2 separate regions of the Homo sapiens genome follow, and region 1 is linked to region 2. Evidence: fine-mapped expression QTL. A gene starts in region 2. The other region holds a variant in brackets. All regions are shown on one strand. Distances are between the middles of the regions.

Region 1 (14,610 bases), 51 kb after region 2:
TCTGGGCCAAGGCAGCAGGGTGGGGCGCTGACACCAAGGGACCCCCGTCAGGTGCCACGAGCCCCGTGAAAGCCCTGAGCCTACCACACCTCATCTGACTCGACTACGTGGGACCCCGCCTTCCTCCCCACCAGCTGCAGCAGGCTGAGGTGGTCCCCTCTCGCCCAGGCCAGCTCAGCTCTCAGGGGCCCACAGAGCTGCATGCATGAGGTTGAGGGGAAGCCAGAGCCGGGTGGCAGGCTGATGGGGCAGCCCAGCCCAGCCCAGTCCCACTCAGGAGGGCCAAGTGAGCCCATGCCACCCCCACCAGGGCTCCCTCCACAGCAAGACCTTCAAGAAAGAGCTCCCCTACCCCCATGCACCAGGGGCCCCCGGTGCTTTCTAGAACATGGGAAGCAGCACGTTCCCCTCCCTGCTACACCCCAGCTCACTGTGTGCCCCGTCCTCTGTGAGGAAAGCCTCACGAGACACAGCAGGACCGGGGTGCCCAAGGGTGCAGCCCAGGCCGGCATCCAGCCTGATGAAGGCAGGCGGTGTGGGGGAGGTCCAAGGGGGAAGGCCGGCATTCACACAGCCCGGGGAGGACAGGGACCCCGCCTCTGCTGGGACCTGCGGACACCAACCCAGGGCTGCAGAGGCGTGTGCAGACACCACAACCCTCAGGGCCCTGCCTCAGCACACAAACCACGGACGGCTCTGCTTTGGCACACGGCCACAGCACACAGCCCAGCCTCGGCAGCCCCCACACCACTCACCCACAGCCCATCGTCCCCCCACGCTGCACATTCCAATCCCCAGGGGCTCTAAGGGGAGCTCTGTGCCCCGAGGCGGTGACATAAGGGGTCTGGAGGGGTCCGGGAGCCTGGCACTACTAACCCCCTCTGGGCAGGGGCAAGCCACCTACCAGCTGGTGGATGCTGTCGATGGCACGGTTGTACTTGTCGCAGAGCCTCTGCATGCTCTCGAAGCTGAAAAAGGCAAGGGAAGGCCCTGGTCATGCGGGCAGGAGCCAGCCGCATGCATGGGAGGGGACAGCATGTGGATAAGGCAGGCTCCAAGGTGTGGTCCCTGCCTGGACAGCCACCAGCCAGCTGGCCAAGACCCTTCTGGCAGAAGCCTCGCTTTCCGCCCTGATGCAGGAGATTTCAGGTTTGACACACAAGCGAGGTGGCCGGCCGAGAGTCCGGTGCAGGGAAGCACTGAGCCCTGAGGCAGTCTGGACCTGCCCAGGCTCCCGCGCAAAGCCGAGGTCCACGTGTGCTGGAGGCGTGAGGAGAGAAAGAGGGCTCGAGGGGGACTGAGGCCAGCCCCCCAAGTGGGAAACCCTGGGGCCGGCCTTAGAGGGTCTTCCTTGCCCTGGCTGGGGACAGCCACCATCGCCAGAGGCAGGTGAACGGCTGGGGTCTCCCAGGGACCACCAGGCCTCTGCCCGGGCAGGTGCAGGAGGAGTGAGCACTGCAGAAAGGAAGATGCCTCACCCCCACCCACACTGCTCTGTGAGCGTGTCCTTCCAAAGCTCCAACTCATTCACACGTCAGCAGTGTGTCATGTCAGCAGTGTGTCACGTCAGCAGTGTGTCACGTCAGCAGTGTGTCATGTCAGACACGGCACAGCAGGGTCCACAGTGAGACTCAGTCCCCCCGCAGCAACTCTGCCCTCCTTGCCCTGGCCGCAAGGCAAACCCTCATTACCTAAGTGCCCACAACCCAACAGCATCGGGGCAGAGCCCACCAGAGGGCAGGGGGCACCTGTGCTCCAGGGAGTGCCCACTGTCTGTGGGGCACGTGAGCCACAAGAAACACCGGCCACGCGGCCCAGCCAGGCCTGGGCTCAGAGGGGCTTCCGGGGTGGGGGCAAGCCTGCTACGGGGTCTGCCTGGCCTAGTCTGTCCAGTCTCCACCTGGGATAACTTGCTCATCTTCCAAGTCTGTTGGACCCACTGGCAAAATGTGGACAACAGCGTCTGTCCCTCCACCTCAGAAGGTGTCCAGAGCAGAGCAAGAGACAGGAGGAGGAGGCGTACCTGTCCAGTGAACACTGTCACACACAGTGGCTCTCACCGGGGACCCCAGGAATGTGGCGAGGCAAGCAAGAGATGGAGGCAGGGACCCTGCTCGGCACCCTGCAGTGCCCAGGACGGCCCCTCCCAGAGAACAATCCGACTTCCACATCCCCAGCGCCGAGGGGGCCTGCACCTGTGCGGGTGGGGGGGGGGGGGGCGGCGGCTGGGGACTCTTTCCTCCGCCTCCGTCCTCCGCCACCTCCACGTGCACGCAAGCAGTTTCCTCCCAATGGCAACCCCAAGAGCCTGGCAGATGCTCCGAGACGTGGCTAAACAATCACACCCCTGCTCCCACCCCAGCCCCAGCCCCATGCTCTTCCTGCCCTGCCCTGGCCACCCTGAATTCACCTGGGCACTGCATGTGCCGAGGTTCACACTTCCCCTTCCTCATAGGAAAACCAGTGCTCCACAGGCCAAGTTCATGTTTTCCTTAACCAGCAGCTGCATAGGATAAAGCAAGAGAACTTAAGAGGAGCAAACACCAAGAACAAGAGCCTGCCGACAGCCCCGGGAGCACGGCCACACAGGACCTGGATCCTCCGGAGGACGAAGGACACGGGGGTGGAAGGAGCCCAGGTGGTGCAGAGGGCCAGCAGGCACCATGCGGGCCGGAGGAACCCACAGAGCCGGCCTGCTGCCTCCCGCCTTCCCCGCAGCTCCAGAGGAGCAGCCCTGGCCCTTCCTGTCTTTTCACTTCCCTTTTTTTTTTTTTTTCTGAGATGGAGTCTCGCTCTGTCACCCAGGCTGGAGTGCGGTGGCGCGATCTCAGCTCACTGCAAGCTCCGCCTCCCGGGTTCACACCATTCTCCTGCCTCAGCCTCCTGACTAACTGGGACTACAGGCACCCGCCACCACGCCCGGCTAATTTTTTGTATTTTTAGTAGAGACGGGGTTTCACTGTGCTAGCGAGGATGGTCTCGATCTCCTGACCTCGTGATCCATCCGCCTCGGCCTCCCAAAGTGCTGGGATTACAGGTGTGAGCCACGGTGCCCAGCCCCTGTGTTTCCACTTCTACACGCCGCCTTCAACCCTGACAACCAGACCTTCCCAAAATCACCTCTGCACGCTCCTGGGAAGAGACTCTTCCCTGGCAGGCTGTGCAAATGCAGGTGCTCAGAGGAGCTGGGGCTGTCCTTGGTCTGAAGCCCTAATGGCTCGGTCCCTCAGGTGGCCCTGCCAGCTCCAACGAAGACCCCCTGCCCAGCCTGTCCCTGATGTCCTTCCAGCCTTGGCTAAGCCCATCCCACGCGAAGAGGAAGGACGCCACACACCCACGTGGAGGGGCGCCGTGAGCACAGCGTCTGACACGCTCGCTGCTCAGAGCCAAGGCAGAAGCTGGCCACACACAAGTGAGGTGCCATAACTGCCCCAGGTTAATGTGAAAGGGCTCAGCCCGACAACACCCACTCATCCGAGGGGACTCTAGTTCCTAACAAAGCTCCTGATCCCTGGGAACTTCTAGGTGACAGGAGTGTCTTCTGTTGTAAGGAAGCGACTTGTGGGGGGCTCCTGGGTGAGGTAAAGCCCAAGCTGCGGTAAGAAGCTTAGAAAGAGGGGACTGGAGATGGAGGCAATCATCAAGCAAGTCTCCGAGAAGCCTCCGTGAAAACCCGAAAGCACAGGGTGCAGAGCTTTGGGGTTAGTGCTCCCCAACTCCACGGACACAGAGCTCTGTGCAGGGCCCTGCAGGCCCCTCCCTGTGGACCCTGCCATGCGGCTGTTGATCTGCACGCTGCATCACACTCTTCATACTAAACCAGGGAAGGGCCCAGCACACCATCACGCCCAATGAGGGGGGGTGGCGAGAGGCCCCGACATGCGAGGCAGGTGGCGTGAAATCCACAGCAGCAGGTCGGCACGCAGGACCCTGCCAGCAACACGCTTGTCTGCCTGTGGGGCACCAGGGTGCTGACCAGGGAATGGGCAGGGCTCGAGGGAGGGGCACAGGATCTCGAGGTTTACTGAGGCTGAGACCGCTGACCCCAGACAAGAGTCCCTCCCACATGCCAGTGAGGCCGGAGAGCCAGGTAAAGTGCAGCCGCGTGGCCCTCTGGGCTTGACTCTCTGTGGAGAGGGGCTCACCTAAGCTCACGACAGCACAGCCCTTGATGGAGGACTACTCTGTTGATTTCAGACTCAAGAGCTGAAAAAGGCATGAGCCTGGAATGTCTTCCTTGTCAAAGAAAAACAAAACACTTCCAAGCAAGCATTCCAGAGACAGCCCTGCCCCTCTCCACCCACAAGACCCTCCTCCGAGACCCAGGAGCTGCCAGGGCGAAATTGCTAACGCAGCCACAGGGCTGGAGACAGAGGGACTAACCAAACCCAGCTGAGATCTAAACAGAGCTGCCAAGCAGCCTAAGGCCGCCCAGGCCCTCCCAGCAGCCTCAGGCAGGAACGCGGACTTCTGGCCGTCAGCCGCCCGCTATAAAAAGAGCGATCACTAGCGCGGGCTGACTCCACACATGCCAATCCCACTTTCCACAACCGGAGTTTCCAATTCTGTCCGGCCTCTGACAGCCTTTGCCAAGAGTTGATAAACATTTCCTACCAAAATAACTTTATGGTGGCCACGGCCAACTCTAAAAGGAAATTTCAGATCAGCTTGCACCATCTAAGAAGAGCTAATTATAGGATGCGTCCTCCTGTCCTCCCCAAGAGCCGAGTCTGTCCTCGGAGCGGAGCGGCTGGACAGGACTCTGCTTACCTTTTGGTGTCATAGTCAATTAAAACGTAATTCTCCATAGCGAGCTTGAGATCCGGGATTTCTTCACAGACCCATCTGAAACACAGCAGCAGAAACGATCAGGAAGGGTTTGGTTTTTTTTGTTTTGTTTTGTGTTTTGTTTTTGTTTTTGTTTTTGTTTTGAGACGGAGTCTCACTCTGTTGCCCAGGCTGGAGTGCAGTGTCGTGATCTTGGCTCACTGCAAGCTCCGCCTCCTGGGTTCAAGCGATTCTCCTGCCTCAGCCTCCCAAGTAGCTGGGACTACAGGTGCCCACCACCACGCCTGGCTAATTTTTGTATTTTTAGTAGAGACCGGGTTAGGCCATTTTGGCAAGGCTGGTCTCAAACTCCTGACCTGAAGTGATCCGCCCACTTCAGCCTCCCACAGTGCTGGGATGACAGGTGTAAACAATCTTGAGTATTACCCCGCATGTTCTTAAACACTGCATCCTCTCCAACAGAAAACAAACATCCTTACCCCTCCACTCAAAGTGGAGAGAGAAGGGAGGCGTGACTTCAAAACGAAGGCTACGATGTTTACCACGAAGCTGTTACTGAATCACACAGGTATTACGTGGCTTCGAGGCCACACACCAGTGGCTCTGGGGACCTAAGTGAACTTATCTGCTACAGGGCTGGTCTAGGGACCCACTGGCCACATCAGAGCTCGAAAAGCAACTGACTGACTAGAAACTAAAGCCAACTGGTGCCGGGTGCGGTGGCTCACACCTGTAATCCCAGCACTCTGGGAGGCCGAGGTGGGCAGATCACGAGGTCAGGAGTTGGAGACCAGCCTGACCAACATGGAGAAACCCCGTCTCTACTAAAAATACAAAATACAAAAACACACTGGTGAATTCCATCAAACACTGACAAGACAAACACTAAACCTACAGAAACTTTCTCAGAGTTTTATGCAGCCAGCGTCATCTTGACACCAAAACCATAGAGACGCAAAGGGCTGGAAAGAAAGGACAAGAAAGGCAACAGCTGACCAACATCCCTGACCAACACACCCCACTATCCCTTAAAAACGTGAGGAAACCGCAGCGGCACCTCACAACCACACACAGCACCTCCTGGGGAGGAAAAGCTGCTTCACTCTAAAATTAGTCACTGCAATTCACCGAAGGAACAAGGACGGAGATCTGAGCAGCCCCGTGTGGGCGAGTACGGAAAGCCCACAGGACGGCATTCGGTGCCATCAGGACGGTACCCTCCAAGAGGCCAGAAATGGAAGGACACGCCTTCCGCTTGGAAAGGGCACGGGACCAGTCACTGAGCCGCTGTGACAGCAGCAGGCCCACCTTCCGCAGCCACCTGGCCTGCGGCTCTGCAGGAGGGGTCAGGGAGGGATGGGGGTTCGGCCTCTGCTCCCCAGTCCTCTTGACCTGCTAAGTCCAGCGGGCAGCTTCCCAGAACTCCGAGAGTAGCTTCATTGCCCCCTACCCCACGCCAAGTCCCCAGACTCCCCAACCAGCTGGCCAGGACCTGACCTCAGG[T/G]CCGGGTGCCCTCCAAGACCCTTCCACACTGAAAGACACAGCATCCTGTCAGAAGGGCTGTGGCATCCGCCCTCTGTGATTATTGGTGCCTCTCGTCACCCGTCCCCAGCATGGTCAACGCCTGCACACCTGGCCAACACCGGCAGGGGACCTCACAATGCAGATCATCAAAAGCCCCAGGCACCGAGCGAGGCCCCGAGAGCAACCCAAGCAAGGCCATCTGCAGTCACTTCTCATCACACTGTCCAGGAGGTTCCGGCCAGCGCAACTCGGCAAGAAAAACACTCAAAGCAGCAAGGAGCCTGAAAGGAGCGGCCGCACGGTCTTCACTCAGTCCCGTGGTTCTGCGCCACAGAGCGTGCTGAGGAATACGCGCGGACACCGCCAGAGCTCAGCAGGGGCATGGCCGATAGGCAAAAGGGAGCAGTCTTTACACATACTAGCAGCAAAGGATTGTCAAAATGCCACATAAAAAAGCACCAAAGGCCGGGCGTGGTGGCTCATGCCTATAATCCCAGTGCTTTGGGAGGCCGAGGCAGGCGGATCACGAGGTCAGGAGTTCGAGACCAGCCTGATCAACATGGTGAAACCCTGTCTCTACTAAAAACACAAAAATTTGCTGGGCATGGTGACGGGCGCCTCTAATCCCAGCTACTCGGGAGGCTGAGGAAGAAGAATCACTTGAACCCCGGAGACGGAGGCTGCAGGGAGCCGAGGATGCGCCACCACACTCCAGCCCGGGCAACAGAGTGAGACTCCGCCTTAAAAAAAAAAAAAAGCACTGAAGCAGGAATACCTGGGAGTGACACTGTTTAAACGCCCCTTTCCCCAAGCTGAACTGCAGGCTCAAACCAATTTCTAGAAAAAGCCCAGCTAGCTTTTCTGGAGAAATGGAAAGGCTGATTCTCAACGGACATCCAAACGAGGAGAGCCTAGGACAGCCCAATCATCTTTAAACAACAGCCCTCCCCACACTTCGGGAGGCCGAGGCGGGTGGATCACTTGAGGCCAGGAGTTTGAGACCAGCCTGGCCAAGGTGGCAAAACCTCGCCTCTACTAAAAATACAAAAATTAGCTGGGCGTGGTTGCAGGCACCTGTAATCCCTGCTACTCGGGAGGCTGAGGCAGGAGAATTGCTTGAACCTGGGAGGTGGAAGTTGCAGTGAGCTGAGATGGCACCACTGCACCCCAGCCTGAGCAGCAGAGCCAGACGCTGACTCAAAAAAACAACACCACTGTGGGAGGACGTGCTTGGGACACTGGCCGTATGGGGACTGAATGGTGTTTGCTGTGTAAGAACGTCGTCGGTGTTTCTAGAGGAAGTGAGACAGAAAAGGTCTGTGCAGCCACACCGTGAGAACCCTGGCCACATGCTGGGGATGCACGGGAGAAAGCAGCCTCTCCAGGTGGTGGGGGTTCGAGTTTCGAGGTCTCTGCCTACGTCGCGGATGCCCAGGTGTTGGTGCACGCCCCTGTGCCTGGACCCTGCTCCCTACAACGCTTAAGCTCCAGACTCCAGATGCGCTCCCCAGAAAACACACAAGGTTCAAACAAGACAGTCAGCTCCGAGCCCTGCAGAAGGCGAGCATGCAGCCAGAGAGGCACTCTCACCGCCACTGCCTGAGATCCGGGGGCCTGGGGTCTCCTCTGACCCCAGAAGTCTGTGCAGGCCCCTTCCCATGGGGAGCAGGTGCAGCTCCCCTGCTGCTGAGCACCTCCAGACACACTAGCAAGCGCCTGGTCAGAGAGGGGCTTCCACCCCTGCTGCACCGAGATCCTAACCCAGAGAGACCACGTCTGGGCAGCACTGGCAGAACCTGCACAGTCACAGCCCCGGGAAGCCACAGCCCTGGAGCACTCTTTCTTGTTTGGGTTTTGTTTCTTGAGACAGGGTCTCACTCTGTTGCCTGGCTGGAGGGCGGTGGCACAATCACAGCGCCACTGGTCTCAAGTGATCCTCCCACCTCAGCCCCGCAAGTAGCTGGGACCACAGGTGTGCACCACCATGCCCAGCTAATTTTTTACTTTTTTGTAGACTTGGGGTCTCATTATGTTGCCCGGCCAATCTCCAGCTCCTGGATTCAAGTGATCAACCCTCCCAGCCTCTCAAAGCACTGGGATTCCAGGTGTGAGCCACCATGCCCAGCTGAGCATTATTTATTTATTTATTTATTTATTTTTGAGATGGAGTCTCACTCTTATCACCCAGGCTGCAGTGCAGTGGCACCATCTTGGGTCACTGCAACCTCCGCCCCCTGGGTTCAAGCTATTCTCCTGCCTCAGCCTCCAAAGTAGCTGGGACTATAGGCACCTGCTACCTCACCCGGCTAATTTTTGTGTTTTTTTTTAGTAGAGACAGGGTTTCCCCAAGGTGCCCAGGCCAGTCTCGAACTCCTGGCCTCAAGCGATCTCCCTGCCTTGGCCTTCCAAAGCGCTGGGATTATAGGCGTGAGCCACCGTGCACAGCTTGAGCATTCTTAAAAAGACTGCCCGGCCCTCTGTGAGGAGCACCCACAGAGGCCCACGCCAGCAGAGTCTTGGCCCCCAGCTGCAACAAGAGAAACCCAGGCAGAGAGAGGCGGCTGGCCGCCAGAAGCATGCTGCAGCTGGGCTGGGGCTGGGGCTGGGGCTGGGGCTGGGGCTGGTGCTGGGCGGGGGCTGGGCTGGGGTCCAGCTGCCTGATCCAGAGCCCTCCCTCCAACCATAACACCAGACTTCTTTTACAAAGAACAGAGGGGCCCCTACTCCACTGCCTGGTCCACGGATCATGACATTAAAAAAAAGCAGATCCCACATTCTAAGCACGGACCCTGGGTCAGGCCCACCCTGGCCGACCTACACAAACGATTTCACTTAATCCTCAAACAACCTGGCCAGGGAGGTGCCGCTGGGCCCCAACACTGAACTACAGGGCCTCAGGAGCTAGGGGCCTGGCACAGAGCCACCCGGCCAAGAGGAGCTCAGCATGGCCCTTATGGCAGCTGCAGGCCTGGGCAGATGCTGGGCATGGGCACGGGCGGTGTCCTCACAGCCCAGTATGCTAAGGAACAGACCAGCAAGACGCCAGGGCCACATGGACACATGTGGCCTCCGTGCAGGTGCCACACAATGAGGGTTCTGACCCTGAGCACCTGAGACACGCAGAATGCCGGCCACCATGGGCAGCTTCCCAGTGGGCAGCAGAGAGGCACCCAGAGGGCCTCCCTGCACTGTTGCTGCAGATCCTGGAGCCCAGGCTGGAGCTTACGAGGACAGGACGGCCTCCGCCTCCTGCCCATCCAAGTCACCCCCAGAATGCTCCTCTCTGCACCCATGGGGCACAGACACAGGAGGCCGTCGAGGGCGCGTGAGGGTGAAGGTCGGCCCAAAACCCACAGCAGGGAGACTGACAAGGAGACAGAGGAAGGCAGGGCAACGCCCCTGGAGGACCCACTGGACACCCCAGCAGCTCAAGACTTCTGCACCCACTGGCCAGGAATGGAGCTGGGAGAAGCAGCTCTACCCGTCCCTGAGTCACCCCTGATCCGCTTCACAACACCTCCAGGAGTCCACCCCTGCAGGAGCCATCCCCACAACAGAATCTGCAGGGCACGGGTGTCCACGGAAGTGGCTCAGGGCTGTGAAGACAACACACTGCAGGCCGTGCACTCACCGGATGGTCTCGATGATTTCATGAGCAGCATCGTGATGTTTATCCTGAAACAGAGAGAGAAGTTTGAGACGCAGAGCCATCCTCCACCCCGTGAGCCCATCGCTCTCTTCCCGGACAAGCGATGCCGTCAACTTCCCATCTCTTCATTTCCCAACTGGTGCAGCTCCCAAGCCCACCACCCAGCGGGTACCACCAGAGACACTCCCAGACCCTGGACCACGAAGGGAACACAGACCTTGCCGGGGACCTATTCTGGCACGCTGTGTCCTACTACAGGCAGCGAGCAGGCAGCGGCCTGGGATGGAGTCTATGGCCCCCGGTCCTGCTCCTCTCCCACCCTAAAGCAAACGGCCGCCCCAAGCTCCGCTCCACATGTCTCCCCATTTTTTCCCTGGAGGTCAGTTGATCCCTCAACACAGCCCAAGTCCCTCAGACCGCGCTCCGCAGGCCCACCGGGAATTCTCCCGACGCTGCTCCAGCCAGGGAGCTCCAGCCTGGCTGGGAGTCCTGCGTTGGCAAAGGCCTGGTATGTGACCGCAGGTGATAGAGCCTCCACGGGGCCTGTTTCCCCAACTGTACCATGGGAAAAAAACCACTGGGCTAGCCCACGTGGGCGGCCTCGCCATAGCCCAGAACCTGCCACAACTAAAACCAAGGTCCTTGGCCTAACACAGATCCCTCCCCGTCCAGCACCCTGCCCTTCGCTCCCTCTACAAGGCCAATGTCAAAGGCAGGTTCACACCCAGCAGGGCCACCCAAGCCTCTCCGACTCCACACCCATCACCGAGAATCAGAGACCAAGTGCACGCCACCAGGACACGTGCACTTTCGTCGCGTCTGCGTGCTACTGTGCTGATATAAACCCACAACAGGCTGGGTGCAGGGAGCGAATCACTTGAGCCAGGAGTTCGAGGCCAGCCTGGGAAACAGCGAGAGCCCATGTCTTTTTTCTGTTTGTTTGTTTGTTTGTCGCCCAGGCTGGAGTGAAGTGGTGCAATCTCGGCTCACTGCAACCTCCACCTCCCAGGTTCAAGGGATTCTCCTGCCTCAGCCTCCCGAGTAGCTGGGATTACTGGCATGAGCCACCACGCCTGGCTAACTTTGTATTTTTGGTAGAGACAGGGTTTCTCCATGTTGATCAGGCTGGTCTCGAAATCCTTACCTCAGGTGATCCGCCCACCTCAGCCTCCCAAAGTATTGGGATTACAGGCCTGAGCCACCGTGCCCAGCCAGCCCATGTCTTTTTTATAAAAATGAACAATTTTTTTTTAAATCCCCAATAGGTAAACGCCAAAGCAATAAGAGTTGCAGACGCGATCCCCTGGATGCTGCAGTCCACAGGGCGCGTCAGAGGCCGCCCAGGCAGCCGTGCAGCCTCAGCGAGCCTCTCCCAGGCAGCCGTGCAGCCTCAGCGAGCCTCTCCCAGGGCAGAGAAAAAGCAACCAGCAGGGCACCTGTGGACACCACCTGACGAAACACAAGGCCAGCGTCATCACAGTGAGACACGCAGCCGCCACGAGCCTCCCAAGGCCCAGCGGGACGCAACCCCATCTGTGGGGCTCCTGCCAGGATGCAGAACCTCAGTATAACCCTGAGAGAAGCAGCCAAGCCTGACTGAGGGGTGCCACACAGAGACCCCAGCTGGCTCTCCTCCAAAGGCCAGACCATAGGAGACCCCCCCCCAGCTTTCCTTATGCACTGAGGGATCAGCCTAGATAGGGGAGACAGGAGACACAAGGGCTCATGGCAATGATGGGATGGGACGTATATGCCACTGAGGCCACAGCTCCGTCCACCTCCTGGTTCGGATCAGGGTACTGTGATGAAATAAAGCCACATAGAAAGTCTGTGCGGTGCTTTGCAACTTTCTTCTAAGTCTAAAACCACTTTAGGGGTTGGCGTGGTGGCTCACACCTGGAATCCCAGCGCTTTGGGAAGCTGAGGCAGGTGGATCACGAGGTCAGGAGATAGAGACCATCCTGGCTAACAAGGTGAAACCCCGTCTCTACTAAAAATAGAAAAAATTAGCTGGGCGTGGCCGGGCGCGGTAGCTCACACCTGTAATCCCAGCACTCTGGGAGGCCAGCTGAGGCGGGTGGATCACAAGGTCAGGAGATCAAGACCATCCTGGCTAACACAATGAAACCCCATCTCTACTAAAAAATACAAAAAGTTAGCCAGGCGTAGTGACGGGTGCCTGTAGTCCAGCTACTCGGGAGGCAGAGGCAGGAGAATGGCGTGAACCCGGGAAGCGGAGCTTGCAGTGAGCCAAGATCGCGCCACTGCACTCCAGCCTGGGCAAAAGAGCAAGACTCCGTCTCAAAAAAAAAAAAAAAAAAAATTTCAAAGTGAAGTGTGTTTTGGAGATTTTTTGTTTTTTTTTTTTTTCTGGTAGAGACAAGGTTTCACCATGTTGGCCAGGCTGGTCTCAAACTCCTGGCCTCAAGTGAGCTGTCTGCCTTGGCCTCCCAAAGACATGGTGAAACGCCATCTCTACAAAAAAATACCAAAAAAAAAAAAAAAATGGCCAGGCATGGTGGTTCACACCTGTAATCCCAGCACTTTGGGAGGCCGAGGCGGGTGGATCACTCGAGGTCAGGAGTTCAAGACCAGCCTGGCTAACACAGTGAAACCCCATCTCTATGAAAAATACAAAAAAAAAAAAAATTAGCTGGGCATGGTGGTGCGTGCCTGTAATCCCAGCTACTCAGGAGGCTGAGCCAGGAGATTCACTTGAACTCAGGAGGCAGAGGTTGCAGTGAGCTGAGACTGCACCACTGCACTCCAGCCTGGGATACAGAGTGAGAATCCATCTCAAAAAAAAAAAAAATTGCTAGGTGTGGTGGCACACACCTGTAATCCAAGATACTCAGTGGCTGAGGCAGGAGAATCTCTTGAACCCAGGAAGCAGAGCTTGCAGTGAGCCAAGGTCGCACCACTGCACTCCAATCTGGGCAGCAGAGTGAGATTCCAGCTCAAAAAAAAAAAGGAAAAAGAAATAGGAGGAGGCAAGAGCCGGGGCTGGGCAGAGCGGAGAGCAGGGCTGGCGAGGGTTGGCGAGGGAGCAGGCAGAACTTGCAGGCCCCGGACAAAGTGAAAATAGGGTCCCTTGCTCAAAGGTGGCTAAAGAACTTCAACACGAGCTGGGCGCAGATCATGAGGTCAGGAATTCGAGGCCAGCCTGGCCAACGTGGCGAATACTAATAACACAAATATTAGCTCTATCACTAGTAATACAAAAATTATTACCACTAATAATATAAAAATTGTTAGTAGTACTAATAATACAAAAATTAGCTGGGTGTGGTGGCGGGTGCCTGTAATTCCAGCTACTAGGGAGGCTGAGAGAGGAGACTTGCTTGAACCCGGGAGGCAGAGGTTACAGTGAGCCGAGATCGCGGCATTGCACTCCAGCCTGGGCGACAAGAGCAAAACTTTTTCTCCCAAAAAAAAAAAATTGTTCCTGCGTGATTTGACTGCGTGTGTGGGGCGAGTGCAGCACACCTGGTCGTTTCCTGTATGTTCTGTGCTCTGCACAGCTCCTTCCCGCCAGCCACATGTCGGGTGCCCACAGCCGAGTGGCTAGTGGCTGCCGTCAGGACAGTGCCGCTCCACAGAGCTCCCCCTCACGGGGGAGTCTTCTTCCTGCGGACCCCCACAGACTGCTGCGGGATGTTGCAGGGTGCAGCCGGAAGCACTGGGTTCTACGCATCTGAAGCGAGACCCAGAGGGCCAGCCTGCTCTCTGGATAGGGGCTGGGGGCGGGAGGAAGGGGTGCTGGGCCTGCTCCCTCATATCGGGGTCCTGCTTCTGTGAGACCCCTTTCCTCCTGCTCACTGTCAGGGCCCACGGCAGGGTTCCCCTCTCCCTCCTCAAGCTGGAATTCCAGCCTGCTGTGGTCCCAGAAGTTCCTGTCTGTCCATAGCGTCTTCCCCAGTGATCATCTGACAGAGGGCCCTGCCTCGCCTGGTTTCAGAGTTTTCTTGTCACAGGGAGTCGCTGTCTCAAAGTGGTGGCCGCGGGAGCTGCATGTCTGGCTGGCAGTGTTTGCAGCTGTGGTTTGAGTGTCCTGAGGCTGCGCAGGTTGGAGGGGGCTGTCGGCCCAAGTCCCCCTTCCTAGGATTCAGCCAAGCGCTTCTCACAGGCGCAGGCCTTACTGGAACAGAGAATGTTCCTGGGAGCCAGATGACTCACAGGTGTGAGGGCTGGAAATGCTCTGATTGACAGCGGTGTCACCTGCCCTTGCCTGCTCTCCTTGGCAGCGTGACATTATTTTGGGGGCCACGTAAGTGTACTTCTAAAAATGAGTGCCCCGCAGAAGCAGTAGCAGGGTGAACTCGCTCTGCAACTCCCGCGAGCCGTGCCCTCTGCCCCACGCCTGTTTCGTCCTTGTGCCTCATTCCCTGTCATTCACAGCTAGGGAGACAGTGTCCCCACCAGGCAGTGCACCCCGAGTTACTGCCCCTGTCCCCTCTTGCTCGCACTGCCTCCTGTCCAGAGGTGCCTTGTGGTGTGGGATGCTGTGTGGACCGAGGGCTGGGGGACAGGGCTTTGTGCAGACTTCACCAGGTTTTTCTGAATCCCAAAGGCCAAGCGGTGACATTCCCTCTCATGGTGGGTGGGTGTGCAGGGCCTGGAGGACCCCCAACTGAGAGTGGATGTCTAGT
Region 2 (11,411 bases):
AGAGAAACACACGCATCCGAGAACAAAGAGACTGATGGGTATCCCAGTAAGAGATCGCTGACACCCTCCTTCATTATCGGGGGAAGCCACTGCACCACAAACCCAGAACAGGAAGCTGAATGACAAGCTGAATTAAAACAAAAAGCCCTTGAAAAATACAGACAGGACGATCCAAACAAAAAATTCCATACCAGAGTTGGAAGCTGAGCCAAACAAATCTTTCATAAAGGAAAGTCAAAAGTTAAAAAAACAGGAGGAAAAGCAAGAACCTAGAGGACATTCCAGAGTGAGAACTGAAAAAACACCCAACAAAATAAAACAGGAAAAATATTATCACAGAAATAACATAAGAACATTAGCAAGAAAATTAAAAACAAAAACAAAACCCAGGACTAAAGGAACCAAACTGTCCAGATACCAAGCACCCACCAGGATCAGCAAATAAAAAGATCCCCGGTAAATGAGGAAATCAGGAAATTTTACGACACCAAGGAAGATGTTAAGCTTCTACTAGACAGAAAGACAACTGAGCAGAAAACATCAGAAACCAGCATAGGAACTGATCTTTTGAGAACAGCACTGAAAACAATGCTTTCACAGTTCTGAGCAAATACAGATTTTTTTCTCTCTCTTTTTTTTTTTTTTTTTTTGAGACGGATTCTCGCTCTGTCGCCCAGGCAGTAGCTCGATCTTGGCTCACTGCAACCTCCACCTCCCAGGTTCAAGCCATTCTCCTGCCTTAGCCTCCCGAGTAGCTGAGATTACAGGCACATGCCAAAACGCCTGGCAAATTTTTATATTTTTAGTGGAGATGGGATTTCGCCAGGTTGGCGAGGCTGGTCTCAAACTCCCAAACTCAGGTCATCCGCCCGCCTCAGCCTCCCAAAGTGCTGGGATTACAGGCGTGAGCCACCACGCCCGGCCTACAAATACAGATTTTCAATCTAGATTTTTATACCCCACCAAACTTCTAACTATGAGGGTAAATAAACTCGTTTTCAGACAATCAAGGACTTCCCCCACCCCCCGAAAAAAATCATCTGTTTCTTCAAAAGCTCCCAGAAGTTTTGCTCGGACAGCATGAAGGGAAAGAGATGACCACACTGGAAACAGAGGTCAGCACAGGGGAGCAAGGACAGGAAGGTTTGGGACAACAGCTCCACTTCCAGGTCAGAGCACAACCAGTCCCATTTGGAGGAGGAGGATAAGGGGGTCTTGGAGGGAAGTGGTGAGGGGAGATCAATTTATTTAAACCTATGCAAAATACAACTGATAGGTGTGTGAGAGGTGGGAGCTTTGTGGGGAAAAAACAAACAGCAGGTAAAAGAAAATCAGGCTCATGGTAAAAACAAAGTTAATTAGCTTTAAGGGAAGATAGAATGGTACAAGAAAAGCCTAGCTGAACATATTACTTGTTTTAGCAGCCAACAATATTTTGCATCTTATTTAGAAAACACAACCAATGACCAACTATGCTCATGACATAAACTCATTCAGGATATGGAAGGTGAAGGTGCAGTGGGTGGATGGGAGGGAGAAGATCTCAACAGCCGTGACAAGAAATCAGCAGATGATGTCTACAAATTGATAAATCCATGAAGAAATCTGTTACTTACTAAGGTAAAGATCAGGGGACAGCCTGGCCAACCTGGTAAAACCCCATCTCTACAAAAAATACAAAAATTAGCCGGGTGCAGTGGCTCATGCCTGTAATCCTACCACTTTGGGAGGCCGTGGCAGGTGGATCACCTGGTCAGGAGTTCGAGACCAGCCTGGGCAACATGGCGAAACCTCGTCTCTACAAAAAATACAAAAATTCGCCGGACATGGTGGTGAGCACCTGTGATCCCAGCTACTCGAGAGGTTGAGGCAGGAGGATGGCTTGAGCATGGGAGTTTGAGGCTGGAGTAAGCTGTGATTGCACCACTGCACTCACTCCAGCCTGGGTGACAGAGCAAGACCCTGTCTCAAAACAAACAAAAAACCGATGACGACCAGGGGAAATGAGCTTAAGAATTGAGGAAAAGTGGCCTCTGGGACCTGGGACTAGACCATTGAGAAGGAATTAGTTTTTCGTGGCAACACCGTTCTCTCCTTAACCTAGCCAACAACCTATTTTCCAGAGCTCCGCCTGGCTGTTTGGTGTCGTCCAAGGATACACAAGAACAACGGTCACAGCGGGGTGCACCTGCAAAATGGGGCCAGCTAACGTGTTCTGGTCGCCTTTGGCATGATGTTGAAGCCGTCACTCCCATTTTAAGGGAACTGAGGCTCACAGGAATTACATCACAGAGCCCCAGTCAACTAACAGGTATAGATGAGCATACAGAAGCGTTCTCGGCTACAAGGAAGGCGGCCGAAACCATTTCAGCCGCGATCCCGATTCGACCCCAACGAATCTTGGTTGTTTCTTTTTTATTTTGTCAAACAGGGTCTTGCTCTGTTGTCCAGGCTGGAGTGCAACGGCACAATCACAACTCACTGCAGCCTCGACCTCCTGGACTCAAGCGATCTTCCCGCTTCAGCCTCCAGAGTAGCTGGGACTACAGGCGCGCGTCACCAACCACGCCCGGCTAATTTTTTTTTTTTTTTTTTTTGCAGTGATGGGGTCTCGCTATGTTGCCCAGGCTGGAGTGCAGTGGTGGGATCATGGCTCACTGCAGCCTCGACATTCCGAGCTCAAGCGATCCTCTCGAGTAGCTGGGCCTACAGGTACAACCACCACTCCTGGCTAATTTTTTAAAATTTTTTGTAGAGATGGGGGTCTCGGTGTGTTGTCCAGGCTGGTCTCGAACTCCTGGCCTCAAGCGATCCTCCCGCCAAGGCCTCCCTGAGCAGTGAGATTACAGGCGTGAGGCCCCGCGCGCGGCCTCCCAACAGGAGTTTGGAAATAGAGTTCCTGGCGGGCCCGACCCTCCAGGCCCGCCCAGCGCGGGGCCTCAGGATGCACAAGGCCGGACGCTCACGGGAGGAGGGAGGGGAGCGACGCCGCCGCCCCACCCTCGGCCCGCGGCCTGTCGCAAGCGCCTCTCTCCTACGTCCGCTGTCCCCCAGGGAACCCCCGGTCCGCGTCGGCCGCCGCCCTCAACCGCCTCTACTCCTCACCAGAGCCCAAGGCCGCGTTATCTCCTCCTCGTTTCGCCACCTCCACGACTTCGTTTGGCGAACGGCGGGCAAAGAAAGCACTTCCGGGGCAAATGAGACGGGCCCTCTGGTGTGCGCATGCCTGGCCCGCCCAGCGGCGTGAGTCAGAGGGTCCCGAGGCGCGAAGGAAAAGGCTGGAGGGGGAGAGGCTGAAAGCGCGGCCTGGAAGGCAAACTGCGCGTGCGCACAACGCTCTCAACGAACCCTCGGTCCGCTGCGGCCGCACGGGGCCAACTTTCGCGAGGGAGCGGCTGACACTCTCCGGGCGACGTTATCGCTCCCTCCGCCTGCGCCTGGCCGCTCTAGAAAGGGGTGCCAGCCATCGCTGGGGTGCCTTGATTCTGTTCCACCTTGGTCCGGTTTATTTCAGTTTAATGGTTATGTAACAACGGTCCGTCTCTCCTACCAACCGGTACCCCGCCCACGCCAGCAGCCACGGGTCGCCAGCGCCACGCAGCGGAGGCGGGCGGCATGGCTGGCCCAAGGTGCGCAGGCGCACTAGCCCTGGGGGTGCTTCCGTGTCTGCGCCCTGAGACATTTTTGGCGCCGGCCCCAGCCTGAGCGGGGACGGCGGCCGGGAGGGCGCGGCCCGGGTTCCCGTTCCCCGCGGAGCCATGCGGTACAACGAGAAGGAGCTGCAGGCTCTGTCCCGGCAGCCGGCCGAGATGGCGGCCGAGCTGGGCATGAGGGGCCCCAAGAAGGGCAGCGGTGAGCGGGACCCGGGAGACCGAGACAGTGCCAGGGGCGGGAGGCCGGGGCCGGGGTCTGGGCGGGGGTGCCGGAGGCCGGAGTCCGGGTCGGGGCGCCGGGGACGGGAGGCCGGGGTCCGGGCGGGGGCTGCCTGCGCCCCTGAGTGCGCGCTGTGCCCGCAGTGCTGAAGCGGCGGCTGGTGAAGCTGGTGGTGAATTTCCTCTTCTACTTTCGGACAGACGAGGCCGAGGTAGGGGCGTCCCGGGCGCGCGGGCGGGTCCCAGGCTGGGCCCCTCGGAGGCCGGGTGCTCACTGCCCCGTCCCGGCGCCCGTGTCTCCTCCAGCCCGTCGGAGCCCTGCTGCTGGAGCGCTGCAGAGTCGTCCGGGAAGAGCCCGGCACCTTCTCCATCAGTGAGTGGGGCTAGGGAAGCCAGCGGCGCTTCCCGCAGCCCGGGGCACCCGCAGCGCCGCACTTTCCCCTCCCCGGGCGCCCAAGGTCTCCTCTGTGTCCCCAGCCTGGCGCCACCCTCCTCAAACACAAGAGTGCATTGTCCACGGGCAGCTCAAGGTCAAGTTCTCCTGGCGGGCACCACCCTTCCCACCTGCCGAGTCCACTTAAGCTTGGGTCCCTCCCAGACTCTGCTCTTTGTTCCCTGTGGGCCCAGGCTGTACTTACAGGGCAGGTGGGCCAGCCCCACCCAAAGCGTTTCCCCAGCTGCCAAGAGTAGCATGGGTCTAGCATTGTTATATGGCCCCGGGCTGGAAATCCCAGGTGGGGGTAGGAGGAGTGAGAGGGGGGTGTTCTCCTGGGTCTTAAGAGATTCCCTTCTGCGGGGAAAGATGGAGTCCCTGCTAGTTTGCCCAGAGTGGCTGTCAAAATTCCACAGGCCAGGTGGCTTAAATATCAGAAACATTCTCTACAGTTCTGGAGGCCAGAAATCCTAGATGAAGGTGTGGGTGGGGCCGAATCCTTCTGAGGCCGAGGGGAATCTCCCAGTTCCTAGTGGTGGCCAGTATCCTCCAGGTTCCTTGGCTTGTGGAAGCGTCACCTTGTCCTCCTTGCATCACGTCTGTGCCCACATTTCCCCTTCTACACAGACGCCAAGCAGAATTTAGGGCCCACCCTGACAACCCCTTTTTACTTCACTTTATTATTTTATTTGCTTATTTTTTGAGACAGGGTCTTGGTATGTCGCCCAGGCTGGAGTGCAGTGGTGCAATCTCGGCTCCCTGTAACTTCCCCCTCTCGGGTTCAAGTGATTCTCCTGCCTCAGCCTCCCGAGTAGCTGGTACTACAGGCACGCGCCACCATGCCCAGCTAATTTTTGTATTTTTAGTAGAGACGGGGTTTCGCCATATTGGCCAGGCTGCTCTCGAACTCCTGACCTCAGGTGATCCTCCCACCTCGGCCTCCCAAAGTGCTGGGATTACGGTCTTGAGCCACCGTACCCGGCCCTCTTTATTTTTGAGACAGGATCTTTTGTTTCCGAGGCTGGAGTGCAGTGGCGTGATCACAGCTCACTGCAGCCTCAACCCCCTTGGCTCAAGCAGTCCTCCCACTTCTGACTCCGGAGTGGCTGGGCCTACAAGGCCCCACCACCACACCTGGCTAATTTTTGTTTTTGTAGAGATGGGGATTTTGCCATGTCACCCAGGCTGGTCTCGAACTCCTGAGCTCAAGCAATCCTCCCACCTTGGCCTCTCAAAGCGCTGGGATTATAGGCATGAGCCACCGCACCTGGCGACAACCTCATTTTGACTAGTTTATATGCAAAGACCCTGTTTATATACAGGGCCATACTCATGGGTTCTGGGGGGTCAGGACATGAACACATCTTTGTGGGGGCCAGAGAAGGGACAGTTTATGGGCAATGGCAAGAGGAAGCTGCTTGTGGCTGTGGGTAGGACCGACCACAGGTGTTCCATCCCCAGGCTTCATTGAGGACCCTGAGAGGAAGTATCACTTTGAGTGCAGCAGCGAGGAGCAGTGTCAGGAGTGGATGGAGGCTCTGCGTCGGGCCAGGTGGGGCCAGGCGGTGGTGGGCACTGCTGGGGTGGGCACAGCAGCCATGCAGAGCGGGCATTTGACCCCGTGCCACCCTTTTCCCCAGCTACGAGTTCATGCGGAGAAGCCTCATCTTCTACAGGAACGAAATCCGGAAGGTGACGGGCAAGGTGTGTGCAGGGCTGCAGAGGGCCGGGGTGGGGCTGCAGGTGGCAGAGGCAGTCCTCCAGCCCTGGCTCATGGCCACCCGTCCTCCCCACAGGACCCCCTGGAACAGTTCGGCATATCCGAGGAGGCCAGGTTCCAGCTGAGTGGCTTGCAGGCGTGAGCGCAGGGCACGGTGGTCAGCGTGCAGCGGGACGGGACTGGCCCTGCCCAGCCATGAATCGCTTGGCCATGCCTGGATCTGTTTTGTTTTGGTTTTTGGTTTTTGGGTCAGGGTTTCACTGTGTTGCCCAGGCTAGAGTGCAGTGGTGCCACAGCTCACTGTGACCTTGACCTTCTGGACTCAAGTGATCCTCCTGCCTCAGCTTCCCAAGTAGCGGGGATCACAGGCATGAGCCGCCACACCCGGCCATCACACCTGGATTTTCAGTGGGAGGTTTTTGGTTTGGAGACATCCAAAGCCTGAAGCCAGGTGGGTGTGGGCAGGGGCTGCATTTTATGAAACTGCCCAGCAAGCTGCGCTCCCTGGGGCCCCAGGATCCACCTAACTGGCCTGGCACCTGGTGCCACGTGCTGCTGCCGCCAGGATATGCGCCTTCCCACAGGTGCCCTGCCTGAGTTGTGTGCATCCAGGGGCCTGGTGAGCCCCCAGGCTGGTGGCATGGCCCCCCTGCCCCGTGCTGAATGAATGTACAGAGCCAGACAAAGCTGTGAATGGCCTAGGGGCTGAGTCCCACACCAGCTGTGAATTCTCCTGCAGACAGGAGGGCCCTGGCTGTGCACCTGGGGAAGTGGTTGCCCTGGGGCCAGGGTGCTTGTTCTGTTCAAATAAAGGTACCTCTTTTCCACACTGGATGGCGGTGAAGTGAAGGAGAGGGGAGGGGCAGCCAGGGAGCCCCCACCCAAGGGAAGTAAGGCTCAGGGTCCTGAGAGGCAGTGGCTGGGCCTCCTGCACTGAGGGGAGAGCTAGAACCCCCAGCCAGGACAGGTGGAGGCTGGGACCCAGGCCTGGGGAGAACAGAGCTGCTGTGTGGTATCAGGAATCCTGTGGTGACCTGGGGTCCTGCCTCTGGCATTCACGGGCCCTCCCGGAGTGTGGCTGGGGCCTGGGCGGGCTTTGGTCCATCTGATGTGAAAAGGACTTTGCCGATGTCATTGGGGTCGCAGATCTGGTTTTCCGTTCATCAAAAGGCACTTTGCCTGTGGCCTGGTGCCCTCATAAGCCTCCCCTTGCCTGTGGCCTGGTGCCCTCATAAGCCTCCCCAAGGCCAGGGTGTCCTGGTGTCAGCCCCCGGAGCTTCTGCTAGGAGCACCCCTAGGCCCTCCACTCCCCGTTTCGGCGATGACACACTAGCCGGGGCCTCTCACTGGCCGCCAGGAGACGCCTCATGCCACCTGGAAGAAAGGCTGCCATTCACACCAGGTCCGAGTGAAAACAGTCTGTTTATTACAGCGTCTAGAGGTGGGGATGCAGAATGCAGGGGTGCCCAGAGGAAGGGGCGCCTGCAGCCCAGGGGCGGACCGTGACAATGCGCGCAATCCAAATACAGTTCACCCGGAAGACACGGCAGAGCCTCCCACGTTACAAAGGCTGACACAGACCAGCAGCGTGTTGTGTTGGGAGGGGGGTCTGACCACGATGGCGAGGGCAGTCGGCGGGGGGTGGGGGGCCTGCTGACCACTGAACAGACTGACGCATCCTGGGGGCAGATAAATTAAGGGGGAAGTCTTAAATAAGTCACTGTGCGTGCCTCATGGGCCGAGGAGGGGGTATCCTAGTTTTTAGGGTTCCTATCAATTCCTGAGCAAGAGCCACTCCCAGGCGCCGCCCGCCCACCCACAGTCAGCAGCAGCAGCACAGGTCCCCGCCAGCTGCCCACGGAAACTCAGGCCAGGTGCCAGCACCAGGCTCCAGATCCCCAGTCTCCACAGCCACCCTGCCACCCGCCACACACCACCCCTCAGTCTGGGAGTGTCTGAGAAGAACACAGGCCCAGGGCTCAGAACAGGAGGGTGTCCGCAGGCAGCCACCACACTAGTTCACGTGTGGTGACACGCATATGACCCAGTGGGCTCAAGGAGACTTCTGCCTGGGCCAGTGGCTCTGAGACCCAGTGCGTGTCCTGAACATACGGTGGCCTGCGTGGGCAGGAGCCCTGCATGGCCATCTGCAGGACCCGTGATGGCACCCGGACTGCCACTGTCACCTAGAGGGAGGCAGAAGTAATACAGTGTTTAAAGAATGTGTCTTGTTCTAGACCAGGGACTCGGCCGTCTCTGCCATCAACCCTGTGGCGTATCCGGCCCGTGGCGACACAGAGCAGGCTGCCTGTCCTGAAGGCCAGGCTCGGGGCTTGGGGCTCAGGCAGAGGCACAGCACCTTCTAGCTGAGAGCACCAACGTGGGGTGGGGAGGGCACTGGGCACCACTTAAGAGGACAGGTCCGGAGCACCATCTTCAGAACTCAGCTATGTTGGAGGGTGGGGGTCTGAGAGGTTGTTGGGGGCTGGGGGAGGCAGCACCCCCCTCACCAGGCACAAGCAGGGGTCTTCAGGCCCTCCCACACAGGACTCCCCCACCTAGCAACCACAGAAGCCTTTCCTCCGTGGCTCCCTTTGGAGGCCACGTGGTAGGGATGTGACGTGTGTCCATCCTGCCCTTGGGAACCAGAACACAGGGCTGGCAGCTCCCTGGAGGGTGGATCTGTGGCACCTTGGGGAAGGGGCTCCCCGATGCCATCTCACAGGAGCAAGCACTTGAGAAGGTGGGCTCAGCAAGTGCCACACAGCCCAGGGCCAGATGCGGGGAGCTCAGACTCCCAGATCCCATCCTCCAGGGAGGGCACAGAGCCACCACTGCTCAGACAACCCAGGCCCTGACTGCTCAGGGCTCCAGAAGCACTGGAGTGGCCCTGCCTGCCTGCTACACCCCGGCCTCAGCTCCTCTCCTTCCACACCCAGTCCCAGGCACCCGCCAAGGCTGCAGAGTGGGGGGCCGACGTCACCCTGGGGCCTAGGGCCAGAGAGGCCAGGTTTCAGCAGTGCACCCTGGCCCCAGCACACCCACAGCAGCTGGGAGAACCAGCACAGGCTCCAAGGGATGGGTGCCAGGCGTGGCCCTGACAGGAAGGGATGTGGGGCAGGCAGGGGCGCCGGCAGCTCTGTCTGGGCTGCTGGGAGCTGCAACTGAGGGGTCTAGGGTCGGGGCTGACGCTGGGGCCATTTTGTGCACTGTTTGAATAAATAAGGTTTTTTCCCCTCGCTTTTCTTTCCTCTTCACTGTGCATTATACCATCTAAAAATAAAAGCTGTCAAATCTATGAAATTTATAAATTCTCATCACATCTCTATAAAATACTGCCACTCATTAGTGTGACTCTCTCCTGTACAGAAACACCAAGGGACCCACGACAGGCCTGCCCCGCATCGCAGGGCATGCTGCGAGCCATGGACAGCCGAGAAATACAAAAGTAAATGCACTTGTTCAACGTGCCCGCGCCGTCCTCACAGCACCATCGCGCAGCACATGGCCAGCTGCGTCACCGCGCAGGCCCCTTCACATGCAAGGGCGCAACCCACGCCCCGGAGGGTGAACAGTCTGGGGGTTCACAGTGCCGGGGTAAAGGTGAAGAGCTCAGGGCAGGCGCCAGGGCGCTCAGGAAGGGGCTCAGGCCGCGGGGAGGCCTCCGAGGAATGTGGTGGCGACGGGCCTGCCTTTGGTACGGGAGCAGCGCGTCGGGGGAGCCGGCCGGGCGGCGTTTCCGAGAACGGGGTTCGGCGTTGTCAGCGTCTAGTCAGCACCAAGCGGGTGGAGGCAGGCGCGGGCCTGGGGACGAGATAGCACCGGGGCAGGCTGTGGCGAATCCGCTGGCGGGCCCGCCCTGCAGACACGTGTCTTTATATAGAGCTCTCATATATAGATATTTATATTTCTCAATAAGTTGCCTTTTACCACTTAGATGGAATAAAATAAGTCAGAATTGTTTATACTTTTTAAAAAATGATAAATACTTTATCTAAAACTATCGACAGTACAAACTGGACCAGTCCCAGCCTCCTGCGGCGCGTGCCGCCGATTCACAGTGGAGCTCCCGTCCGTCCTTGCCTCTGCCGTCCAGGGGTGGGAGCCCGGCAGGCCGGCGGGCACCATGCCGCGGGCGCGAGTTGGTCCACACCGTCCTTGCATAGGTCTCGCGGTTGAGGTAGAAATCCTAGTTACCTGCAGAAGGGCACAGCGGGAAGAGCGGCCTGAGGTTACCATCGCGCCTGGGGGAGCCCAACACTCACCCAGGCTGGGGACCGAGGCCTCCCACGAGCACACACGCCACCTGGGGCCAGCACCATGACAGGCATAGTGCCAGCTCCTCTAACCACAACAGACGACGGGCGTGCCCCGTGACAGACCAGGGAGCCTGACACCTGGACACGCCGGCCAAGCTCCAGCCTTCCTCCAAAGGAGACACACAGCCGAGTCCAGCTAAAGCCACCCTACCTGCAGCTCATCTCCTAAGAGACCCAGCATAGCTTGTCCAGCCCGCAGGTGCCCGCATTGACCCGCCAGGCTGACCAGCCCTGGCCACAGCCTCCGCCTTGGCTCCTGGCTCCCAGTCCTCCTCTCCTTGCCCGGTGGGCTTTGGACTCGCCCAGGAAGGCCTGTGTCCCAGGGGCCCCTGAGGCAGAAGGCCAGGGGCAAGCAGAGGGCACCTTTGCACTACGCCGCCAGGCACGCCATGTCCCTGGAGGGCACGGGTGGCCAACTGCCCTCAGGGGTCAGCGGCCACAGTCTCCACAGCCTCTTGGGGGAGGAGTGAACAGGACATTCCCTGAAGGCCTCACATCATCAAAATCACTCCTGCTTCCAACTTCCTTCTGGTCTCAAAGGTGGGCACCGTCTACACTAACCTGCCCAGCTTGGTGCTGACATCTGAGCAGCTGAAAGCCCCTCGGCTGTGGGCCATGACCACAGGGCAGTGTGGCCATCAGCCGTGTCCAGCAAGGGGGCCTCAACACGCAGGGCACAGAGCTTGCCTCTCGACCCCGCCGGGAACCCATCAGCCCCCAGGCAGGCAGGGCACTTGGGGCTTCACTGGCTCCCTATGAGGGCATCCGAGGCTACTGGCCAGACAGCCCCGACCAGAGGCATCCAGCCAGCCACCCTGGCTCTCCAGGACCTCTGCAGCCGGCACCGTGCCTGCTACATGCTGGGCGCCTGGGGAACAGCACCAAGCCACGCCACCCGTCATGAGTGACCTGGGCCTGGTGCGGATGGAGCCCTGGAGACTGCTCTAGGAGCTAGAGCTCCCAGCCCCCTGGCCTGGCACCCCGTGAGCCTCGCCCACAGGGGCTGGCACAGCTGCCCCCAGGGCTGGCCTCAGTCCTGCGGCGTCACCGCAGGAACCCAGCTGCGG

What was found. PIP is the estimated chance that this variant, and not a neighbour inherited with it, causes the effect.
Region 1: its variant is fine-mapped to the expression of SF3A2 in visceral fat (GTEx, PIP 0.99).

Annotation. Positions count from the first base shown.
Region 1 is chr19:2,176,090-2,190,699 of GRCh38, reverse strand. DOT1L (DOT1 like histone lysine methyltransferase) reads right to left here. Exons shown (of 28, transcript NM_032482.3): 2 at 9,944-9,987; 3 at 4,771-4,845; 4 at 905-968. Among named protein-coding and RNA genes, the nearest start is that of DOT1L, 19 kb to the right of the region's middle. RefSeq lists enhancers at 7,515-7,604, 7,795-7,954, 9,427-10,010. The variant T/G (reference allele first, on the strand shown) is at 6,292.
Region 2 is chr19:2,228,596-2,240,006 of GRCh38, reverse strand. It overlaps SF3A2 (splicing factor 3a subunit 2), which reads right to left and starts at 3,183. Exons shown (of 9, transcript NM_007165.5): 1 at 3,106-3,183. DOT1L (DOT1 like histone lysine methyltransferase) reads right to left here. Exons shown (of 28, transcript NM_032482.3): 28 at 7,429-10,222. The coding sequence ends at 10,215. PLEKHJ1 (pleckstrin homology domain containing J1) reads left to right here and starts at 3,678. Exons shown (of 6, transcript NM_018049.3): 1 at 3,678-3,852; 2 at 4,017-4,084; 3 at 4,179-4,245; 4 at 5,767-5,857; 5 at 5,946-6,009; 6 at 6,102-6,854. The coding sequence starts at 3,759. The coding sequence ends at 6,167. MIR1227 (microRNA 1227) reads left to right here and starts at 5,858; the gene lies at 5,858-5,945. It also overlaps MIR6789. RefSeq lists enhancers at 1-275, 3,418-3,467, 3,046-3,654, 4,263-4,871, 4,874-5,453 and silencers at 2,898-2,997, 3,608-4,237.